2 linked regions of the Homo sapiens genome follow. The protein of the gene in region 2 interacts with the protein of the main gene of each other region in a pairwise test. Each region holds a gene or a part of one and is shown on either strand. Other genes may lie near its edges. The genes, in order: GPI and TAMM41.

The links.
Region 1: the proteins of TAMM41 (region 2) and GPI interact in binary tests that used the Homo sapiens proteins (3 or more experiments, as listed by UniProt).

Annotation. Positions count from the first base shown.
Region 1 is NC_000019.10:34,358,973-34,370,247, reverse strand, and holds the start of GPI (glucose-6-phosphate isomerase), read right to left. Parts: upstream 5,053-11,275; 5' UTR 4,989-5,052; coding exon of another isoform or gene 4,982-4,988; coding exon 4,860-4,981; intron 3,904-4,859; coding exon 3,813-3,903; intron 3,466-3,812; coding exon 3,397-3,465; intron 1,666-3,396; coding exon 1,546-1,665; intron 1-1,545. UniProt on the Homo sapiens protein: In the cytoplasm, catalyzes the conversion of glucose-6-phosphate to fructose-6-phosphate, the second step in glycolysis, and the reverse reaction during gluconeogenesis.
Region 2 is NC_000003.12:11,843,886-11,855,277, forward strand, and holds the start of TAMM41 (phosphatidate cytidylyltransferase, mitochondrial isoform a precursor), read right to left. Parts: upstream 3,001-11,392; 5' UTR 2,752-3,000; coding exon 2,617-2,751; intron 1,212-2,616; exon of another isoform or gene 1,018-1,211; coding exon of another isoform or gene 1,006-1,017; intron 327-1,005; coding exon 144-326; intron 1-143. UniProt on the Homo sapiens protein: Catalyzes the conversion of phosphatidic acid (PA) to CDP-diacylglycerol (CDP-DAG), an essential intermediate in the synthesis of phosphatidylglycerol, cardiolipin and phosphatidylinositol.

The sequences.
Region 1 (11,275 bases), on a different chromosome or scaffold from region 2:
CTGCCAACCCACCCCTGCAGAATCACCGCTAGGGTAGACACTGAGGCAAGTGCTTGATGTGGGGAAACTTAGCTGGTCTCTGAGGCAACCCCTACCACCCTACACACAAGGAAAAGAAGGCATGTTACATGCACTGTCACTGACACACGGACACTGCTTACATACTTCCAGGTGGAAATAAGCTTCAGAGGAGCAGGGAGAAAACCAACCTGTGTGCATGTGCACATGTGTACGTGTTTCAAAGAGGAGATGACAGATGTGTATGTGCACAGGAACTTTCTGGAAGACTTCACAGGAAAACTTTTCTATTTTTTAAATTTATTTAGAGACACGATCTTGCTGTCGCCCAGGCTGCAGTGCAGTGGTGTCACCATGGCTCACTGCAGCCTCAACTTCCCAGGCTCAAGCCATCCTCCCACCTCAGCCTCCTGAATAGTTGGGAATAGAGGTATGAGCTGCTGCGCCTGGCTACAGGAAACTTTACAAAGGCTGCTTCTGGAGGGTTAGCTGGGAATGGGGATGAGGAAATTTTTTTTTTTTTTTGACAGAGTCTCCCTCTGTCGCCCAGGCTGGAGTGCAGTGGCGCAATCGCAGCTCACTGCAACCTCTGCCGCACGGGTTCAAGCGATTCTCCTGCCTCAGTCTCCCAAGTAGCTGGGATTGCAGGCGTATGTCACCAAAACTGGCTAATTTTTGTATTTTTAGTGGAGATGGGGTTTCACCATGATGGCCAGGCTGGTCTCGAACTCCTTACCTCAAGTGATCCACCCACCCCGGCCTCTCAAAGTTCAGGAATCACAGGCATGAGCCATCGCGCCCAGCCAGGGTTGAGGAAATTTTACAATGTTTTATCTGTTTCTAGACTGGGTGATAAGGGCGTATGACAAAAGAGATTAGAAAAAGCTCCTTCCGGCCAGGCGCAGTGGCTCATGCCTGTAATCCCAGGTGAGGCAGGCAGATCACCTGAGGTCAGGGGTTTGAGACCAGCCTGGCCAACATGGTGAAATCCCGTCTCTACTAAAAATACAAAAATTAGCTGAGCAGGGTGGCGCATAATTGTAATTCCAGCTACTCGGGAGGCTGAGGTAGGAGAATAGCTTGAATCCAGGAGGCGGAAGTTGCAGTGAGCTGAGATAGCACGACTGCAGTCCACTCTGGGCGAGAGAGTGAGACTCCATCTCAAAAAAAAAAAAAGAAAAAAGAAAAAGCTCCTTCCTTTCCTGACTGTCCTGTCTCTCAGGGGCCCCACTTTTCATTTGAAGCCTCTGTGGTTTGTCACCATGAGTCCATAGGTGTCTACAATTCAGGAAAGAAACTGGCCCCACTTCTGCCAGCAGCAGATTCCTTCAGAGCAGAGCCAGGAGAAATTCAGGCCTCAGCAGAGACTCCAGGGTCAGCGATCACACAGGCAACCCCTCCCTTAAGCTGCAGTGAGAACCTGAGTCCTGCCTACAAGAAGAGGGAAGAGCTGCCCCTTAGGGCTCCCAGATTCCCAAATAACTCACACACACGGCCAAGGGTGAGTCCGGCCCAGTAGCCACTTACCTGGCAGAAAGACTTCATCTTGTCCAGAACCTTGTTGACCTCTGGCATCACATCCTTGCCGTCTACCAGGATGGGTGTGTTTGACCGGTTCCGCAGAGCCACGTGCAGCACGGCTCGACCCTGGGGATTACGGTCAGGATATAAAGACTGCCCCCCCCAACCCCAGGCAGCCATGCTCCCAGCTGGGCATGGTGCCATAGCTCGGCCCTCTATCCACTAGACAGGCAGGCCCTGAGGTCTCTGTTAGCACCATAACCTTGTTCCAAGAACCCACTGTATGCTTAGAGGAGTAGGAGCTCCCCAAGGACTTATGTGCTGCAGACAGTCAGGAGGAGAGGAGGGGACCCATATATGCCTAGGACAGGCCCCGAAGGCCTGCCAGAGATGCTCAGGGCATGAACAGTGAGAGAAAAGAGGAACAGTGAGCAAAGGCAGAGAATGGCAACAATACATGTCAGAAACAAGCAATAAATGCTTTCAGAGGCCGGGCGCCATGGCTCACGCCTGTAATCCCGGAACTCTGGGAGGCCATGGCAGGTGGATAACTTGAGGTCATGAATTCGAGACCAGCCTGGCCAACATGGTGACATCCTGTCTCTACTAAAAATACAAAAATCAGCCAGGTGGGGGTGGCACACACCTGTAGTTCCAGCTACTCAGGAATCTGAGGCAGAGAATCGCCTGAACCCATTAGACAGAGGTTGCAGTGAGCCAAGATCGCACCACTGCACTCCAGCCTGGGCGACAGAGCAAGACTCCATCTCAAAATAAATAAATAAATAAACGCTTTCCGAAGATGAGTGCTCATGAAGCCTGAAGTAACCTCATCCTCCCAATGTGTGTCCATGGTGTTTGCTGGCACGTTTTAGGCAGTGTCCTCAGCTCCTTGGATTTGCAGCAAGGCATGCAACTCAAGCTTCCCTCACCAAGCAGCCCGATAACTACCAACTGCCAGGAACCAAACCAGACTTGAAGTCTGTGACGGGTGCCAGGCGGCTGGCCCAGCCACGTGAGTGAAATGGCCTGAAGTCAGCAGAGGAGTCCTTGAGGGAAGGTCTAACGACCCCAGGTGGGCAGGAAAAGGATCATCTTGGGATTCCGACCCAGTGAGAGGCTTGCTAAGGTGGAGGGCTTCATGCCACCCCACCCTCACCCTGCCAGACCCCACTCCTGCGCCACATTTTATTGGCAAATGCACTCCTCCAGAAAGCCTTCCTTGATTGCATCCTCTCTCAGCTTAGACCCACAATGCAAGACAGGTTGAGTGTGAATCTCCATTCTGCCTCTTACAGCTATGACATCTTAGATAAGTGATGTGACCTCTGAACCTCAGACTCCTCACATGTAAGAGGAGGATAATGACATCATGAGGACAGAGTCTGGGTGCTCAGTGTCCATTATACCTCCAGGCTGGGCTCCCATACTGAGTCAGGAACAGGGGCCCCCAGGCCTGGCCTCACCACTGCTTCCTATTGACTCCTACTGCTTGAGTAGGCTGAAGTCTTTGGTGATCTAAGATTCTTCTTGTCGCTACTAAAACTTGCATTGAGGATATATTAGAGTTAACTTCTCCAAGAAAATGTCAGCCTTGAGAAACTCTCCCTGTGGGTATGAGATATGCTCCTCCCAGGCAGACACTGGGAACCATTCCAAGGAGCTCACCAAACCAATCTTGTGGAAGGCACACCCCAAAGCCCTGCTACAAGCAGGAGGAAAAAGGCCTTCAGGCCCCTCATTAAGCAAAAGCATTGCCCAAGAGAAGGGGTGAAGACACAGGGTGATGCGGCTAACAGTCAGATAAACCCCAAAGGGAAGGAAGGAGGCCCCAGAGGGTATGTGGGGCCTGCTCACCTCGGTGTAGTTGATCTTCTCACCATTGAACATCCGCTCCCGGGCGGCCTCCACGCCCCTGGACTTGGCCTAGGAAGAGACGATACTGAGGCCTGGTCCCACCCACACTGGCCACCCCAAGTGTCAGCCCCCAAACACAAGGCTTGGTGCTGTCCCCAATGAGACAGACAGACGGCTGCTGTCTGGTTCCCTCCCCTGCTGTCTGGGAAGGGTCTACTCAGACATCAGACACTGGGGTCCCTGGGATGCTGCTTAGAACCTAAGCCAGGGACAGGTGCCTCACCAGCACAGAGGAGGTGACTGAGGTCTAATGAGAGGAAGAACTCAAGATACTCAAGGTCCTGGGGACTCCCAGGAGCCCAGCTCACCCACCACTCTGTCGGTTACCAGTTATGCCTCCCCAAGCAGAACATTACCAAGTCCACCAGCATCCGCATCACGTCCTCCGTCACCAGGTTCTTGGAGTAATCCACCAGGATATGCCCATGGTTGGTGTTGAGGGTCAAGCTGCAGAAAGATGGAGATGCTGCTGACCACACCCTGGTCTCCCTAGCGGGGAGCCATGCCCTAAGCAGGAGCTGTTCCCAGAAGAAACATCCTCCCTGACCCACGCCCCACAAGGGCCGCGGCCACCCAGCACAGTGGTGGTGTCTGTCACCTGCTGGCCCACCAGGATGATCTGCAACAGCAGCCCAGAGAAAGAAGCCATCCTCACAGACCGTAGATGCAGGCAGACCCTGGATGAGGAGCCCGGACTGAAGTGGGGGACCACCCCTTCCCAGGGCTTCCACTTTCTGCCGTAAGTTACTCAGGCACCCATCCAGATGACAGGGATGGCCATCGGGACGTCTAGCCCGGAGCCACAGTCGCTCCCCTCCCCCGCCTCCACCAGTATCAGTGATCAGAGCTCCCTTGGCCGCACTCCCGCCCATGATTTGCTCAAACACTCCTTCCCACTTCCCGGTCGTGCACAGGTGTCTTCTGCAGGAATCACGCCCGACGTCTCCATCCTTCCACCCAGCTCCCTCAAACACCCCCGCCCGGGCTGCCCGCCCTGCAGACGCTCCCAAGCTCATGTGGCCAGGAGCGGATGGAAAGGGACAGCCCTTTCCCGCTTGCTGCGTCAGCCAAGGCCTCTCTTCACAACTGCGAAAGGAGCCCCTGCTCAAATGGCCAGAGCTGCACGGGGAGGAGGAGGGGAAATGTCCCCACGGAGGGGCCCGTTTTTCCTCGTAACGAAGCAGACCCGGGGCCGAGACTCCCGGCGAGGCTGCAAGCCCCCAGGAACGCACTCCAAGGAGACTCCAAGGACGAAGTGCGGACTCGGCCTGGGCCCCAGTCCGTGGCCTGGAGGTCGGGGACTGGGGTCCCCGGGCACCGCTGCCCCCGCCTCCAGACCCCAGGCCCGCGTGCCCGGTTCCGGGCGCCGCGCGTGGCAGCCCCCGCCTCCGGCCCGCCCGCACCTGAAGTGGTTGAAGCGGTCCTTGTTGGCATCGAAGAGGCGGCGCAGGTTCAGCTCGGAGCGGTGCTCGCGGTACCATTGCTGCAGCTTCTGGAACTGGGGGTCCCGGGTGAGAGCGGCCATGGCGGGACTAGAAGGTACACTGAGTGAGACGCGAGCCGAGGAGGAAGGAGCGCCGGCAGCGCGCAGCAAGCGAGGCGCGTGGGCGCGCGGCGGCCTTTATGGCGCAGGCGCCCGGCCCGGCCCGGCCCGGCCCCACCCCTGAGCCCCGGCCCCGCCCCCGACCCGCGCCCCGATACCCAGGCCGGGTGCCCGCTGAGCGACCTTGCCCGCGGCCGCTGATCTGGGGCCTCAGCTCCTCTCTCCCTACCTCTTGCGCCGCCGCTTTGCTGGCCTCTGCCCGGAAGTGGCAGTGGGGAGGGTGGGCAGAGCCCGGGGATCACTGGAGCCCAGGTGTTGGAGGCTGCAGAGAGCTACCATCGCGCCGCTGCACTCCCTGTGCACTAGTCGGCTTCATTCATTCATTCGACAAAACTCTATAGATCGAACACCTTCCACGTTACAGGCAGTGTTCTAGGCGCTGTGGATACATATGTGCCAAATAAGCAAGTACAACAGATGATGTGTGTCTGCTGGTGGTAAGGGCTATTGAGGAAAACCAAGATGAAAAGGGTGCTGAGAATCGGGGTTGCAATTAAGAAAAAAGTGACTAGGCCGGGCGCGGTGGCTCACGCCTGTAATCTCATCACTTTGGGAGGCCGAGGCAGGCGGATCATGTGAGGCCAGGAGTTCCAGACCAGACTGGCCAACCTGGTGAAACCTCATCTCTACTGAAAAAAAAAATGCAAAAATTAGCCGGGCCTGGTGACACGTGCCTGTATTCCCAGCTAACTCGGGAGGCTGAGGCAGGATAATCACTTGAACCTGGGAGGTGAAGACTGCAGTGAGCCACTGTACTCCAGCCTGGGTGGCAGAGTGAGACTCCATCTCAAAAAAAAAAAAAAAGATGAGGTCAGAGAGCAAAAGGGAGGCAACAAGATCACGTAAGACCTTGTAAGTCATTGTAAGAACTCTGGGGCTGGGCACTCCTGCCTATAATCCCAGCACTTTGGGAGGTGGGATAGCTTGACGCCAGGAGTTCAAGCCGAGCCTGGGCAAGACAGCAAAACACTGCTTCTAAAATACTAAAAATAAATTAGCGGGGCATGTGGTGGTGCATATCTGCAGAGTCCCAGCTACTCGGGAGGCCAAGGCAGGAGGATCACTTGAGTCCAGGAGTTAGAGGCTGCCGTGATTACCACCACTGTACTCCAGCTTGGGTGACACAGCAACACCTTGTCTTAAAAAAAAGAAAAGAAAAGAAAAGAAAATAGGGAAAGGCTGACAACAAAAGAAATAAGTGGTCACTGAGGGGTCACAGGACTTTCCAGGGAACAGCCCTGTCCACATGGCCCTTTTCTAAGAACTGTCAACTCTTAAGATTTCACTGAGCTTCCACACCTAGCACAACCCTGGTAGTGCTGAACAGTATCTGTTCTACTGGAGTTCTTTTTTTGTTTGTTTGTTTGTTTGAGATGGAGTCTCGCTCTGTCACCAGGCTGGAGTGCAGTGGCGTGATCTCAGCTCACTGCAACCTCCACCTCCCTGGTTCAAGCGATTCTCCTGCCTCAGCCTCCTGAGTAGCTGGGACTACAGGCGCACGCCACCACACCCAACTAATTTTTGTATTTTTAGTAGAGATGGAGTTTCACCATGTTGGCCAGGATGGTCTCAATCTCTTGACCTCATTATCCGCCTGCCTCAGCCTCCCAAAGTGCTGGGATTACAGGCATGAGCCACTGCGCCTGGCCTCTACGGGGGTTCTGAGAAACACTCCAATCAGGGTTTTCTAAGCCAGTTACTCATCTACACAGAAGAGAATTCCCACCCCAAATCCTCTGTTTCAGAACAAAACCTCAACCAATGGGAAGGCGAGTCTCAGTAGCCACTGCCCCATTATCACTTACCCTGTGATTCCTCAGATGACTCTAGCCCAATAGTAACCACTGACTCCCTCTGACTCCTCCTTCTTTTTTTTTTTTTGAGACAGGGTCTCACTCTGTCACACCCAGGTTGGAGTGCAGTGACACGATCTTGTCTCACTACAGCCTCTGCCTCCCAGGCTCAAGCGATCTTTTCAACTCACCCTTCTGAGTAGCCAGGACTACAGGTGTGCACCACCATGCCCAGCTAATTTTTTCCTTGTAGAGACAAGCTTTGTTATTTTTTGTACAGACGAGGTTTCATCATGTTGCTCAGGCTAGTCTCGAATCCTTGGGTGCAAGTGATCTGCCTGCCTTGGCTTCCCAAAGTGCTGGGATTACAGGCATGCAGCACTGCACCTGCAAACTGAGACTGCCTTTTTCTAGTAGGTTATTTTGGTGACCAGATGGACGGCTGTTGTTCTTTGTCTAAAACCATCCTCTCCCACCCGTGTTTCTACCCCTGCCTGAATCCATCAGAGATGAGCACATAACTTATGCCAGCTAAACAGGGTCCTTTTCCAGGGCCCTGCAGCCAGCAGCAGAAAGTCTCTGCTTTTTATGGTGTTAAGCTGCCTGTCAGAAAGGACAGACCTGAGCTCTAGCCCCTGGTCTTGAGGAAAATAACGAAGAGAATGATCCCCACAGAGATGTCAGAGTGAATCTCACAGTGCCCAGGTTCCTGGGGCCAGGCCACCTCTACCTGCAGCTAGAATGTAAACCAACGATTCCCTTTAGTGTCTGTTTGGAGTTCAGTTGTCATTCACAACTCCAAGTCTTTCCAAAGATGTTACGGGTGTTCACCTTTCCACTGCCACAGTCTTGTCCAGTGTCCTCTCCCGACCACCAGGAACCCTAGAAACAGCTTTGGGTATTGCGAAAGAGGCAGGAGGTGAGGCCTCTGATGATTGCCATTTCAAAGGTTTCCCCTGCCTTTTAATCTTCCATAATGTACACCTCTGCAACTTGGCCTCTGTGATTCCCAGAAGCTTCAACTATTCCAGATTTCACATTTACTTTGAAACTCCAGTTACATGGATTTTCTTTTTTTCTTCTTTTTTTTTGAGATGAAGTTTCACTCTTGTTGCCCAGGCTAGAGTGCAATGGCACGATGTTGGCTCACTGCAACCTCTGCTTCCCTGCAACCTCCACCTCCCAGGTTCAAGCAATTCTCTTGCCTCAGCCTCCCTAGTAGCTGGGGTTACAGGCACCCGCCACCTCACCAGGCTAATTTTTTTTTTTTTTTTTTTTTTTTGAGATGGAGTCTCCCTCTATCACCAGGCCAGAGTGCAGTGGCACCATCTCGGCTCACTGCAACCTCCGACTCCCTGGTTCAAGCAATTCTCCTGCTTCAGCCTCCCGAGTAGCTGAGATTACAGGCATGCAACACTACGTCCAGCTAATTTTTGTATTTTTAGTAGAGTTGGGGTTTCACTGTGTTGACCAGGATGGTCTCGATCTCCTGACCTCGTGATCCGTCTGCCTCAGCCTCCCAAAGTGCTGGGATTACAGGCGTGAGCCACTGCACCCGGCCTAATTTTTGTATTTTTAGTAGAGATGGGGTTTCACCATGTTGGCCAGGGTAGTCTCGAACTCCTGACCTAAGGTAATCCACCCACCTCGGCTTCCCAAAGTGCTGGGATTACAGGCATGCAACACCGCGCCCAGCCTGGATTTTCTATGTTAGCAGGAAACTAGGTTCCTATCTGGTGGGCCATAAATCACAGTGGCTACAGGGAGAAAGCACAGAAAAGTAAGAAGAAAAGTCTAATCCAAAGCCATTTTGGATTAGAAAGTACTAATCCAAAGCCATTCATCATCATACTACAAAACTACCAACACGGCCACTACTCCAGCCAGGTTTACTACGTGCACAGCTCCATGCTAAATCCTTTCCATGTATCCCTCATGGCAGTCCTATGAAGGATACCCTGTTGTCCTCCCCATTTAACAGAGAGGTTAAGAAATGTGAAATGAGGCCGGGCACGGTGGCTCACGCCTGTAATCCCAGTACTTTTGGAGGCTGAGGTGGGTGGATCACGAGTTCAGGAGTTCGAGACCAGCCTGAGCAACATGGTGAAACCCCCGTCTCTACTAAAAATACAAAAAAATTAGCTGGACGTGGTGGCGGGCACCTGTAATCCCAGCTACTTGAGAGGCTGAGGCAAGAGAATGGAGTGAACCCAGGAGGCAGAGCTTACAGTGAGCTGAATCATGCCACTGCACTCCAGCCTGGGCGACAGAGCGAGACTCTGTCTCAAAAAAAAAGGAAAGAAAGAAATGTGAAACAAGGCCGGGTGCAGTGACTCACACCTGTAATCCCAACACTTTGGGAGGCCGAGGCAGGTGGATCACTTGAAGCCAGGAGTTTGAGACCAGTCTGGCCACCATGGTGAAACCCTGTCTCTACTAAAATTACAAAAATTAGCCAGGCGTGGTGGCGGACACCTGTAATCCCAGTTACTGGGGAGGCTGAGGCAGGAGAATCACTTGAACCCGGGTGGCAGAGGTTGCAGCGAGCCAAGATCATGCCACTGCACTCCGGCCTGGGTCACAGAGTGACACCCTGTCTCCAAAAAAATAGAAAGAAAGAAATATGAAACAAGCCACTCTGCTCTTAACTAGAGAATCAACCCAGGCTGCCTGGTTCCTTCCTGAGACCTGTGCTCCTGCCAGTTCCTCTTCAGTCCTAGGAAAAAGGTGGAGGGAAAGTGGAGGAGCAGGCAATCCCTTTCTCCACTCCTCATCATCCCAGTTATGTCTTATTAGTTGAAACAGTGTCTCGCTCTGTCACCCAGGCTGGAGTGCGGTGGCATGACCATAGCTCACTGCAGCCTTGAACTCTGGGCTCAAGCGATTCTCTCACCTCGGTCTCCTGAGTAGCTAGAACTACAGGCATGACCACCCCGTCCCGGCTAATTTTCTTATTATTATTATTTGTAGAGACTGAGTTGCACTGTGTTGCCCAGGCTGGTCTCAAATTCCTGGCTTCAAGAGATCTTCCTGCCTCAGCCTCCCAAACTGTTGGGATTACAGGTATGCGTCACTGTGCCTGGCCATAAGGTCATTTTATATTCTGTTGTCTATCACCATCAGTACAATCACTACCATATGCTGAGCCAAGTCCTGCCGATCGCAGAGCTTAGGGCTCAGAATCCCCAGGATCCTGGGGGGTAGTGAAGCTGGGAGGGGTCATGCCCCCAGGCCAGGGACTGACCAAGGAGAATCGAAAGGAAACCTAGCCCAGAAATTCCAAGAGAACATGCTGCAGAGCCGGACACCTTCACGTGCCCCCAGCAAGATGATGTGGCCCTGAGAGAGGAGCGGACCAGAGGGTACACCTGACAGCAGAGGCAAGTTAGGAAGTCCGGGGACAGTCCTAACTCTGGATAGCAAAGATTTAATTTCAAGCATAAGGCAGCCCTGGAAAAGCAATTGACTGCCACTGAGTATTGATGAAGCTAGCACTTACTGCAGGCTGTGGCGGGCACAGTTCCAAACAAGAGCCCCGTTCTAAAGATGGGGAAACTGAGGTATCGGCATTTAGACATCACAGACCTTACTTCAGGGCCGCTGGACAGGGGTCAGGCAGGCCCTGGAGCACAGGTGGCCATGGGAGTGAAGGCAGAGGGACTGGGGCAGAGGACTGGTGGGGTGGTCAGTTCTGGGGCCTGAGCTGAAGAAGTCGGGAGCGGGGCGTGGCGTGGCGTTTCCACGCCCATGGATTTTAGACAGCTGTTCCGGGGGAGGAGGCGAGCCCACCGAGGATGCTGAGTCATGTTGACCGGCGAAGGCGAGGGGACCACGCCTCTGGAGCTACCGGGGTTGGCTCATCGCCTCCGGGGAGGCCACGGAGCAGGTGTAGGCGGGGTTGAGCGCAGGCGCGGATGGGGCGGGGGTAATGCGCACGCGTGTGCGTGTGGGCCAGCACGTCCGGGTGGTCAGGACGCGCGCTTGTGCGCATGTCCCCGCGCAGGGTCGGGCGCTGGGGTGTGGAGACTGAACCTTGCAGACACCCGGGTCCGCACGTCTGGGATGGACGTGGTGAGTGCACGTGCGCACGCGCTGCGTAGGGGCGGCTGCGCTCATGCGCACATCGGGAGTGGTGCTTGGAGAGGCCACCTACTCACCGCGCCCCCAAGAGGCCGGGGGTTTGTCCCTGGTGTTGGCCCTACCCTGCGCGATCCAGTCTTGTCGTTTCGGGGCTTCATTACCAGAGCCCCGTGAATCCTTTGCTAGATGCTTAAAAACATTTTCCCCATTGTACATAGCTGTTTCCACGAGAATAAAAAGCTTTACATTTATTTGAGGCCTGCTTGGGCCTATCCGCAGCTCCACCGTAGTGCTAATCCCCTCCCAGTCCTGGAACAGCCCAGATGATGTATTTAATAGTATT
Region 2 (11,392 bases):
AAACATACATATTTCCCGACTATAACAACGTCCAGCAGGAGTGTGAATGTTTCCTGACCACAAGAACATACATATTTAGCTGGCACTCTAATAACCCAGGTAAATAACCAGCCAAGTTAAGACAAAGGCCAGCAGTCACTTACCCTACCATTACACATGATCAATGAATTGTAGTAAACTCCAGCGCCATAGTTATTCTGGATGGACGTGATAATCTTGGGCCCTAAAACTTTTAGGAAAGAGTAGTGACTCCAATTTTTCTTCAGGTTCTTTGAATGCCATGCGACAGGGTCATCTACTGTGAACACAAAGTCCAGCATAGCATTCTGTGGAGTGAAGAAAAGAGAATAATTTCAGTATTAATTCCTAGAAAGGCAGCAAGAGAGCATGGAAAAGCTCTAACATACTACGCAATTATGATCAATAGTCAGAAGGCCTGGTGCTGTCATCAGAAATGTGAGCGAGTCTCTGGAACAAATATGAGCTTTGTTTTCATCAATGTAATAATAGCAAACACTTCTTTAACATGTATTGTTGTGCCAGCACTCTTTAAACACTTTATGGGTAACATACGCAGTCACTCCATTTATCCTCAGCACAACCCTACAAGGTAGCTACTGCTATTATCTCAATTTTATAAGAAACCAAGGCACAGGGGATGCTCTTTGCCCAAGGACACAGAGCTTGTGAGTGGCAGACCTAAGAGGTCTGGCTCCAAACTGTGTGTGCTGAACCACTGCACTACACTGCCTTTCACAAATGTAGCTAAATGTGCTCCGCTTTTCTTCTGGATCAAATTAGCACCACCTGGATAAACTCTACAAAATACTATATAAAAGGAAGTCAGTTATTTTATCTCTTACCTATTCACCAACCACTTATTGAGTACATAAGTAATGAACTCTGACAGGCCCTAGGGTAGAAGTATAGAGCTCAGAGTCTACTGGAGAGAATAAACAAATTATCACTACATTGACTTGATAGAGGAATGCAAAATGTACTAACTGCACTCAGCATAGGGATCAGATCAGGGGCACAGGAGGGAGAAATTCTCCTAGAGATGACAAATCTGAGTCTTGAAGGACACGTGAGTTAAACAGACTTGCTGGAAGCACTGGGGGAAGCACAGGGAAGGGTAGGGAGCCGTGTTGGAGGAAAGTGCTCTGTGGATATGGGAGCCAGCATGTTCTGGAAGCTGCCGTCAGATATGACTGAAATAGAACACATTTATGCGGTGGGAGATGAGATCAGAGAGGGAGGCTGTTTGCCATGCTAGAAAATTTTCCTGCAGAAGAGCTGACTGGAGAGAAGAGGGACTAAGGGGGTGGGGGAATTAGATCTGAAGCCATGGCAAGATTCCAGGGGAGAAATGAAATTATATTAGCTAAGGCGCTAAGGATGGGGACTGATGTGAGAAAGATGTAGGTGTTGGAATCTACAACTTGTTCACTTGAATGTAAGGAATCAAAAGTGAGGGAATGGGAAGGAAGGACCTTTTCTTGCAGGGAATTCCAGGTCTATTCAAAGGAAAACCTCCATGGAAGAATGAAGAGGTGGCCATCAGGAGGCTAACGCCTGCTCTGTAGAGTGTGACTCTACAGACCACTGGGGACACTTGAGATTTGGTGGCGAGGCAGGTATGGAATAAACATGTTTTTTAAAAATGTGTAATTATGTTAAGGTAAATTCGGGAAAAATAACTAGCCTATAATAACCTATAATTTCTCATATGCTGCCAATTTAAAGAAAAATATTAAATAGTAGTGTAAGTGGGAAACAGAGGAAATCCAAGCAACAGCATAGATGGCCTCACCAGGAAGTGAACAGGCAGGATGTTAATCAGAAGACAGACTACAGTCAGGTATCCAGACGCAGGGGGCCCCATTAAAACCTGCACACTGAATTCTGCAAATTACAAGGAAAACTGTACCCTTACTGAGGCTGTGCTGAGCCAACTCTGAAAAGTAACAATGCCTAGTCTCAAACAGACCGTTGTTAAAAGTGCTGAGCGAGGGTAAATACACTGGTCACGCACTAACTTTTGATGTTAGTTACTTTCACTGCACCTGCCCTGGCCCTACAACCAGTCCGCCAACTTCCTGAAGTCAGAAGATCATTTTGCATTTTCTCCTACATTTATAGAGGTGACTCTCAACAAACTTGGCTGCGCATTAGAATCACCTGGGACGTTTCTTAAATTCCTGAAGCCCAGGCCTCATCCCAAACCAATTAAATCAGAATCTCCATCGGCGGAAGCCGAGCATTAGGATTTTCTTAAAAGCTCCCCAGAAAATTCCGATGTCCAGCCGACTAAAACACTGAAAGAACCTGATAACGATTTCTTTTCCTTTCTTCCATTTGCCCCTGCAGCAGTTTTTCCTTCTGCCTAACTGCTTCTCCTGCTCTAGACCCACGTGGATTCCTAAGTATCCTTCAACACCGTCGCTTCAACTCGCGCTGTCGTTATACTAGGAAGGCAGGCCTATGGTTCACTCTGCTAGTGGACACGTGGAGTGTGCAGAGCGGACAGGCAGCTCTCCGACTCTGAAGGAATCGAGGGCAAAACGGGACTCGTGAGAACAGACAGTTCCCCGTCGTGGGGCTGCCCGGGCTCACCTTCTGGTCTGAACTCGGCCCTGCCTGGCGGTACACCCCGGAGCCGTAGACGAAAGCCAGACTCAGCTCCTCGGGGAAGTGAGACAGGATCTTGCGGAAGGTCACCCACGAGCTCTGCAGCGTCTGCAGCGCCATGGGGTCGAGGCTAACAGGGGACACTCAGCGCAGCAGGGCGAGGACAACCGGGCGGGGAACAGACACCGGGTAGGCGGTTTAGGGTGGGAAATGGAAGTCGGAGACTGGATCGAGGGACACAAGGCTGAGTGTGGGGTGGGACTGCAAGCACACGCAAGGATTGGGGCGTTGGGCCACGAAGAGCAGCGGCGAGAAGACGCAGCCCAGATAGGCTCGGGTGGGCGGCGGTCGCACAGGCAGAGCTTCCGTCCCTTGCTACGCCCCACGCACGCACAGGCGCTTCCAAGACGCAAGAGGCGGTGCTCGCCTTAGTGTGGGGAACGCGAGGCTTTGCATTGTCCCCTCGTGGTCGGAGGAGTGCCCTACAGGCTGGCGGCTAGGTTGCGACTTGGACAAATCGGCGGAGGCGAGCGTCACCCGACTCCGCGGGCCCTGAGCCTTGATAGCCTCTGTACTTCTCTCTTCAAACTACGGTTTAAAGAATGACTATAAAATCGGGAGCGTATTGAAGGTTTTTAAGTGAGGCGACACTCACATAATATGGAACTAGCCGTTCTGAAATGGACAGTGTAGTAGCATGTAGTGCCTTCACAATATTGTGCCCCCATCATCGCTCTAGTTCCAAAATTGCAGATTTCGAAGATTTGGAAAAACACAAAATTAAAATGATGCCCAATCCCGCCATGTAGAGAATACCACCGTCAAGATTTGACGGAGACTTCTTCACGCTAAAGCCCTTTTCAAATACAAGGGTGGATATGGGAGTGCACAGACGTTCTCTGATACTTGCATTTAATTTCAAGGGTGGATCACAGTTTTTGCCCCCTTGCCTTGTGGAATGGTCTCACAAAGGGTGCTTCAAATGCAGTTTCTGGAGGAAACAGGACCCTAGGAGTAGAAAAATCTTACAGCTCTCCTCTTTGTATAACTGGAGAAACTTGCTGAAGATTACCATTCAGGAGGTGGTTTGACTTCCAGGACAGAAACTTTTTCAACTACCCTCTCCTTCCTCCCCAAAATACACTACCTCTCAAAAATAATAGAAATAGTAATAGCTAACATTCAGGTAATGTTGACACATTTTCACATGCACTTCTCACTGAGCACCCTCTAGTGCCCTGTGGCAGGAGGGCCTTGGTTTTACTGATGGCCAAGCTAAGGCTTAGAGAGGTAAAGCCAGGTGATAGGATCACATCAGCCTGTGGCAAAACTAGAGCTAAACCCAGGTCTGGCTCCAACTCTGGGATTTTTTCGGAAATTCTGCTCTGTCCTTGAAGGGTTTTGAGCAAGGACTTATGTAATTCACATGTTAGCCTGAATTGTGGGGGACTGATTAGACAGTTGTTATCATAGTTCCCCCATGAACTGGAAACGGCTAGGCCAAGGTCTTAGGAGCAGGGATGGGATTAAATCAATTGGAAAAATGATTACTTGCACTCACACTCTGGGCCTGCACTGAGATGAAGAGATCTGAGCTGCCTGCTGCCCTGCAGGAGCTAGGGGTCTGTAGAGGAGAGGAGACAGAACTGCAAATCAGAGTAGAATTTGGGTAATGCAGCCAGGTACCCAGCACAGTGCCGGAATGTAATGTCCCTCCAATGGGAACGTCAGTCAGTTCTGGGTGTTGGGGAAAGGGACCAGAAGAGGTTTCACAATGATGGCATTTTGAGCCAGGCCTGGAAGCTGGGTAGGAGTTTATCAGGTAGAAGATAGATGGGAAAATTCAACCAAGAAAGAATTGAAAGGACTCGGTGACAATAATACTAATAATAGGTGTCATTATTAAGCACTTAGTATGCCCAGGCACTTTTTAGACTTCTTTGGGGCTTTTCTGTTTTTGTTTTTTTTTTGAGACCGAGTCTTGCTCTGTTGCCCAGGCTGGAGTGCAGTGGCACGATCTCAGCTCACTGTGACCTCTGCCTCCTGGGTTCAAGCAAGCATGCCTGGCTAATTGTTGTATTTTTAGTAGAGATGGGGTTTCACTGTGTTGGCCAGGCTGGTCTCGAAATCCTGACCTCTAGTGATTTGCCCACCTCAGCCTCCCAAAGTGCTGGAATTACAGGCGTGAGCCACTGCACCCAGGCTTTTTATACTTGTTTCTTTTCATCACTCCAGAGATCCTATGAGGCAGGTTCTCTAAGATGATGATATTTTTCATACGAGGAAACAGAGGTCCTAAGAGGAGCAGTAAATGTTCCAAAGTCACACAGGAAAGTGGTGAAGTCGGGGTTTGAACCTAGGGCTACCTACCTCTAAAGGCCAAGGTCTTTACCACCATGTTTAAGTGTCCTCTACAGCGGCTTGCAGGGTGAGAGAAGGAAATGGGAAGAAAGCAGGCACTCAGGCATCAGCCAAGAGTCAGGAGCAGCAGCAGTAGCCGCAGCAACAAGCAGGAGACCAGGGCAAGGGAGCGGAGAGAGGCCGTTTGTCTGCGGCCCCTGGTGTGGGCATGGTCACTTCCGTTCATTTTTACTACATATCGCCCTTGCCCAGGGTGCCGGAATCAGAGTGCACTCACCGTGGAATTACACTGAAGCCTCTCACCCAAAGACAGTGAATAAATCTCATTACCAGCCGGTTCCTTTTTTATTTCCTTCCTTCCCTTGGGGAAATAATTCAACGTCATTGGATTTTTCCTGTTTGCAAAAGTAATCCATGTTCATAAAAATGTAAACATTATGAAATACATACATCATGCCCCAGAAATAGCCACGGTAATCTTTGGCACATATTCCTTCCAATATTTTTCTATGAATATATTAACATTAAAAACAATTTTAAGTGGATTCCTAGGATAGATACTATTTTGCAATTTGCTTTTTTTGCACTTAGCGTATCAGGGACAATGTTCTGTGTCAGAATATATAGATTTCCCTCATTCCATGTATTAGTAGCAAATTATTCTAAGATATGGATATGCCATAATTTTGTTTAAAATTTTTTGTTTAAAAGAAAGTGTTTAAACATTTTCTTTCTCTTTCTTTCTTTCTTCTTTTCTTTTGTTTCTTTCTTTTTTTTTTTTTTTTTTTGAGAGCGAGTCTTGCTCTGTCACCCAGGCTGGAGTGCAGTGGCACAATCTAGGCTCCCTGCAACCTCCACCATCCGGGTTGAAGTGATTCTCCTGCCTCAGCCTCCTGAGTAGCTGGGATTACAGGTGCCCGCCACCACATCTGGCTAAGTTTTGTATTTTTCGTAGAGACAGGGGTTTCACTATGTTGGCCAGGCTGGTCTCGAACTCCTGACCTCAAGTGATCCACCCGCCTCGGCCTCCCAAAGTGCTGGGGTTACAGGCATCCTGGCCTGTTTAAACATTTTATTGTTGATGGATGTAGGTTATTTCTAGTTTTCACACCTGCAAACAATGCTATCATGAGCATCCTTGTACATTTTATGTGCATGAACAAGTATTGCTATAAGACAGATTCCTAGAAGGGGAATTGCTGGGTCAGAGTGTCAGCACGCTGCTAAATTCCCCTCCAAAAGATGGTGCCAATTCACACACCCACCAGCAGAGTTCAGCCCTTGATAGAAATAAAGATGCTGCAATGTTTCTCCATTTGTCTCCCTTACAGGCGTTCACACCCAATTATCAGCAATTTTCATGTTCACAAACACTTTTCTTCCTGCAATGCAAAACCACCAGCTGGAAGGTTCCATCACATTCCTGTGTGCATTTTGCCTTTCCCCAGAAAGAGGCAGAAGCAACGTAGCCACGAACACATTTGTATTCTTCAGCAGAAATCTCCCTGCTCCTGGCCCTTCATCCACCCACTCTCTTTTAAATTACCATGGCTTGTGAAATTAGAGGCTATTAGGAAGACCCAGTGTTCTATATAATCGCTTTAGGGTTCTGTTGGAAAGCTTATACCAATGAAATAAACATGTTAGAGAGCCACTTACAAATATAGATAAATGCCTGGTGACTCGAGTGAATATTGGGCCTCATTCTTCTGATTTATCTAGCAGTTGTCTTTGTATTCCTTAATAATGACCTTGTCAGGCTTTCACTAGGAGAAGGTTCATCGAATCCATGTAATCCATTTTTTTTAAAGCCCTGTAAAAAAACATCTATGGCTTTAATGCTTTTTTTTTTTTTTTCTAATCAGTGTTTAAGTACAGGAGAGAAAAATGTTTGGGGAAGAATAAAAATCCAGGCTCAGTGGTTCTTACAATTAGCCACATGTTCAATTGGTCTGCTGATGGAGGGGAAGGAGAGGGGTCTTGATCTCCATCTTGTCAGAGGTGGGTCACCCTGTCCCATTTGTCCATTCTCGGCTGATTGATGGTTAGAACTGGGACAGACTGGGAGCATTTTTTCGTTTTTTCTTTTCTTTTCTTTCTTTTCTTTTCTTTTTTTCTTTTCTTTTCTTTTTTTTTTTTTTTTTTTTTTGAGACAGGGTTTCACTCTGTCACCCAGGCTGGAGTGCAGTGGCACGATCTCGGCTCACTGTAACCTCTGCCTCCCAGGCTCGAGTGATCCTCCCACCTCAGCCTCCTGAGTAGCTGGGATTACAGGCATGTACTACCACACCAGGCTAATTTTTGTATTTTTGTAGAGAATGGGGTTTCACCATGTTGTCCAGGCTGGTCTTGAACCCTTGAGCTCGAACAATCCACCCACCTAGGCCTCCCAAAGTGCTGGAATTACAGGCGTGAGCCACTATGCCCAGCCAACTGAGAGCATCTTAATACATCTTTAGTGTCTGATCAGGGGCTTGAAGGTACCACCTGGGTTGGAATCCAGGCCCCAGGATTTAATAGCTGTGTGACCTTGGACAAGAAGACTTAGCCTCTCTGTGCTTTCCTTTCCTCATCTGCAGCCTGGGGAGAGTAATGACACCTCACTCACAGGGTTGTTGTGACAGCAAATGAAACAGTATCTAGAAAGTACATAGAATAGTGCCTGGAGTAAGCTTTCAATAAACGGAGGACATCCTCCTGAATTCTTAAGAGACAATGTACAAAAGGAATTAAGAAGCATAATTATACCTACATCTTTATGGCGTTTAGCATTTTACACAAAGCACTTTGCAGACATGATTTTATTTAGCTCTTAAAACAAATCCTGGGAAATTAGTAGCTACTATTTCAGTTTTACAGATGGATAAACTGAAGCTTAGAAAAAAGAATTGATGTGCCTGAAGTCACAGGGCTAATGGCAGCTGCTAATACAGCCTCCAAGTCCAATCCCTTTCCTCTTGCACGAGAAAAATAACACGGGGTGTTCATTTCACCAAGGGACCCATTCATTCATTGATTCATTCTCCCATTGAAACCTTCCTCATCCTTTAGTCCCAGCTCAGCTATCAAAGTGTTCTGTTCTCTGTGCCTTCCTAACCCTTTGCTTTTAGCTCTCTAGCTCTTGTCTTAAATATCAGATATGTCCATCAAGTACAATTATAAAAGGCTTAGGGGCCCTTTGAGGTCAGGAACCATATCTTATTAATCTTTCTGTCCTTTAGTGCCTAGTACAGTGCCTGAAACAAAATTTCTGCATTTGCAAATGTTATAGTCTGGTGGCAAAAAATTCACATGCATGCAAAAAAAAATACACTATGGAGAGTATAAACCAGATCTATACCACCGCAATGGTAAGACAGCAGGGGTTACTTTTTCTTCAGGGTTTCTGGGAAAGCTTCTTAGAGGGATGACATTTGGATTAGACCTTGGAAGATGACCAGCAGTTCACCAGAGAGTACACCGTGAAAAAATTCTAAGAAGAAAGAATTGCCTCCATACTGGGTCTTAGAATCCTCCTTCTAGGGGGACACTGAGTTTTCCAGTGGAGTTCAGGAAGACCATGGACTTTTACAGTACCAAAGAAATGAATAAATAATGGTGGAATTCCAAAGAACAGAGCAGGTATCTCATCTGAGAGGCAGAATGTGGAATCTGGATTGAGACTGCTTGGTTTCAATTCTCAGCCACTGATGATCTGTGTGACCTGGTGCAAGTTGGCTCTGTGTCTCAGTTTCCACAAGTATAAAATGGGGATAATAAGAGCGTCTACCTCCCAGAGTTGTCATGACAACTAAGCTGGTTAGATCAATCTCTGACATGTAGTGAGTACTACGTATGTGTTTACCCTTCTGATTCTCCACTATCCCTGAAATTCAAGCTGGTCAGCAGCTGCCCACTTTATCTCTCTGTAGAACTGGCCCTGAATTTTGGGAGAAACTGAATTGGCAAAGAACTGAGTTAGAAGAGAAAGAATTAGTTACCATATACCAAGTCTGTCTCTGGCATGAACCCCTGCGATCTGGGTTTGGTGTAAAGCAGCTTGTCCCAAGGAGGGTTATTTGATAAAAAATTCTATCAGCTAAGTTTGGGAAATTCTGGATTAAACAGAGGCAAATCGAGATCTTTGATGTGGGATTCCTCCGAGCATTAATATATTAATAAGCATTGTGAATCTCCAAGAGAGAAGCAGAACATGTAGCATTTTCCAATCTCCCAGACTAGGTTTTCCTCCATCCTCTGCTCCCTCCACCTTCTCTCTCAGTGTCTTCTGGGATTCATATTCTGTGGCATAAATTTAGGAAGCGCTGGTGCCAAGCACTCCCTTGCTGTCCCAGAATCATCTCAGTGTCCCAAACCAATCAAGACTAATTTTCACGGACCTCTTTTGCCTGAAGGCACCAGGGGATCCTATAGCCTAAGAGAGAGATTGGGGAATTTCTCAACACATGAATTACGGTTATAACTTGTGGGTGTAAAAAGCCAAGAATTTCTACGCTTTGGACTCTGAGGATGTCTTTGTTCAGACCCAGAACTGACAAAACTCTAGGTACAATCTTCCTAGACTTACTTCCTACAAAGCGTTTAGAATGACACTTTCCAAACCTCCAGGGTAACCCTTTTGTGAAGTCCTAATTAGAGAAAAGGAGTTAGGCTGGTGAGAGCACGGGAAAGCAAAGAAAGAAAGAAAGCAGATAAGCTATGAGTCTGCCTTTCTTTGTGGTCCAGGACACGTAGCCCTCCTGTGCCCAACTTATCACTAGACACCTGTACAGCTCGCTGTAACCTTGGCGTTATCAATACTGCACAAAGCTCTTTTCAGTACACAGCAAAGAACCATCCTATAAAATCTCCAGCAAGCCTTTGTTTCCTTGCAGTCAGCTTCTCTCTTGCTGATTCTGCCTGTTGCTCCTTTGCAATGTACTTTCATACTTTCTCTACTAAATCTGCCTTTCTTTACCTACAACTGTCTTGGTAAAGCCTTCTTACCCCCACGCCACCAGCTCAGATAGTTGCCACTTACCAATGACACCTTTCACCTGGGTAAATTCCTCTCTTTTTGGGGTCCCAAAATATCTTGAGCTTCCTGGGCCTGTTAGGAAGTGATATTCTTTACTTACCACAGGTCAGGAATCTTGTAAAGAAACTATGTAGACAAGGTACCAGGCAATCTTTTGTTTGTTTGTTTGTTTTGAGACAGGGCCTCCCTCTGTAACACAGGCTGAGTGCAGTGGTAATCATAGCTCACTGCAGCCTTGAACTCCTAGGCTCAAGCATTCCTCTGCCTCAATCTCTCAAGTAGGTAGGACTAAACATGTATGCCACCACTCCTGGCTTTTATTTATTTTTTTTTGGTAGAGACAAGGTCTTGCCACGTTGCCCAGGCTGGTCTTGAACACCTGGCCTCAAGTGATCCTACGGCTTCGGCCTTTCAAAGTGCTGGGATTATGGGGGTGAGCTGCCATGCCTAGCCTAGGCCAATCTCTTCAAGGGGCTTTTTATTAGCACTGTAAAGTCGATGTCAATTCCTCAACATAGTCTGGTCATATCTGAAAATAGGTCATTCCAGTCAAAGCCTTGGTAACATAACCAGTTTCTCTAATTGTGTCATGTTACAAAAGAAAACAGATTCTTACTGAACTTATGTAAATAACTATATTGTCATAAATTAAGAATACTCACAAATAGTTTCTAAATTCCAAATAAACCAGGTAAAGAGAAAGATATCTGTTTTAAATTTTGCTGACAAAAGTATACTTTACCCATTTGTTATAAGCTACGAATAGCTGAAACAAAAAAGTTTTTTGACTCTGAAAACAAAACATTAAAAGGACTGGCAATGTTTTTTAAAAAAGAGGCTGTGAAAAAATCAGTTTAGTCTTTTATTAGTTTAGTTCAATGTAATTAACCTTGTTCTGCTTGATGTTGAGTTAGCTATCTTCATAAACACATCAGCCTTTTAGTTAGAGTCCTAGAAGTTCTTTCCTAGTCTAATGGTATGATAGCTAAAGTTATCAGAAACCTGTATTTAAAAGTCTGTGGCAGAGCCTTTTCTATGATTTTTTTTAAAAGAAGCAGATTTTGGGCTGTAGCTGATCATAAACCACTTTTTGAGAATAACCAAAGTAAAACAGTAATTGTCTGTGGTTAGGAAAGGCAATATTCATGGTTAAAGACACAATTGTCAAGGAAATTTGATTGTTTTTGTGGCATACTGCAATTAAGCATAATAATCAGAATTATTCCTGATGACAAATACTAAGACATATCAGAATTTAAGGAATCTTACACAATTTTGGAACATATATTAATAGCACACGTATGTAAATATAACCCAGAGAAAGTTAAACAGCAGTTTTTTTTTGTTTGTTTTTTTGTTTGTTTTTGAGACAGAGTCTTGCTC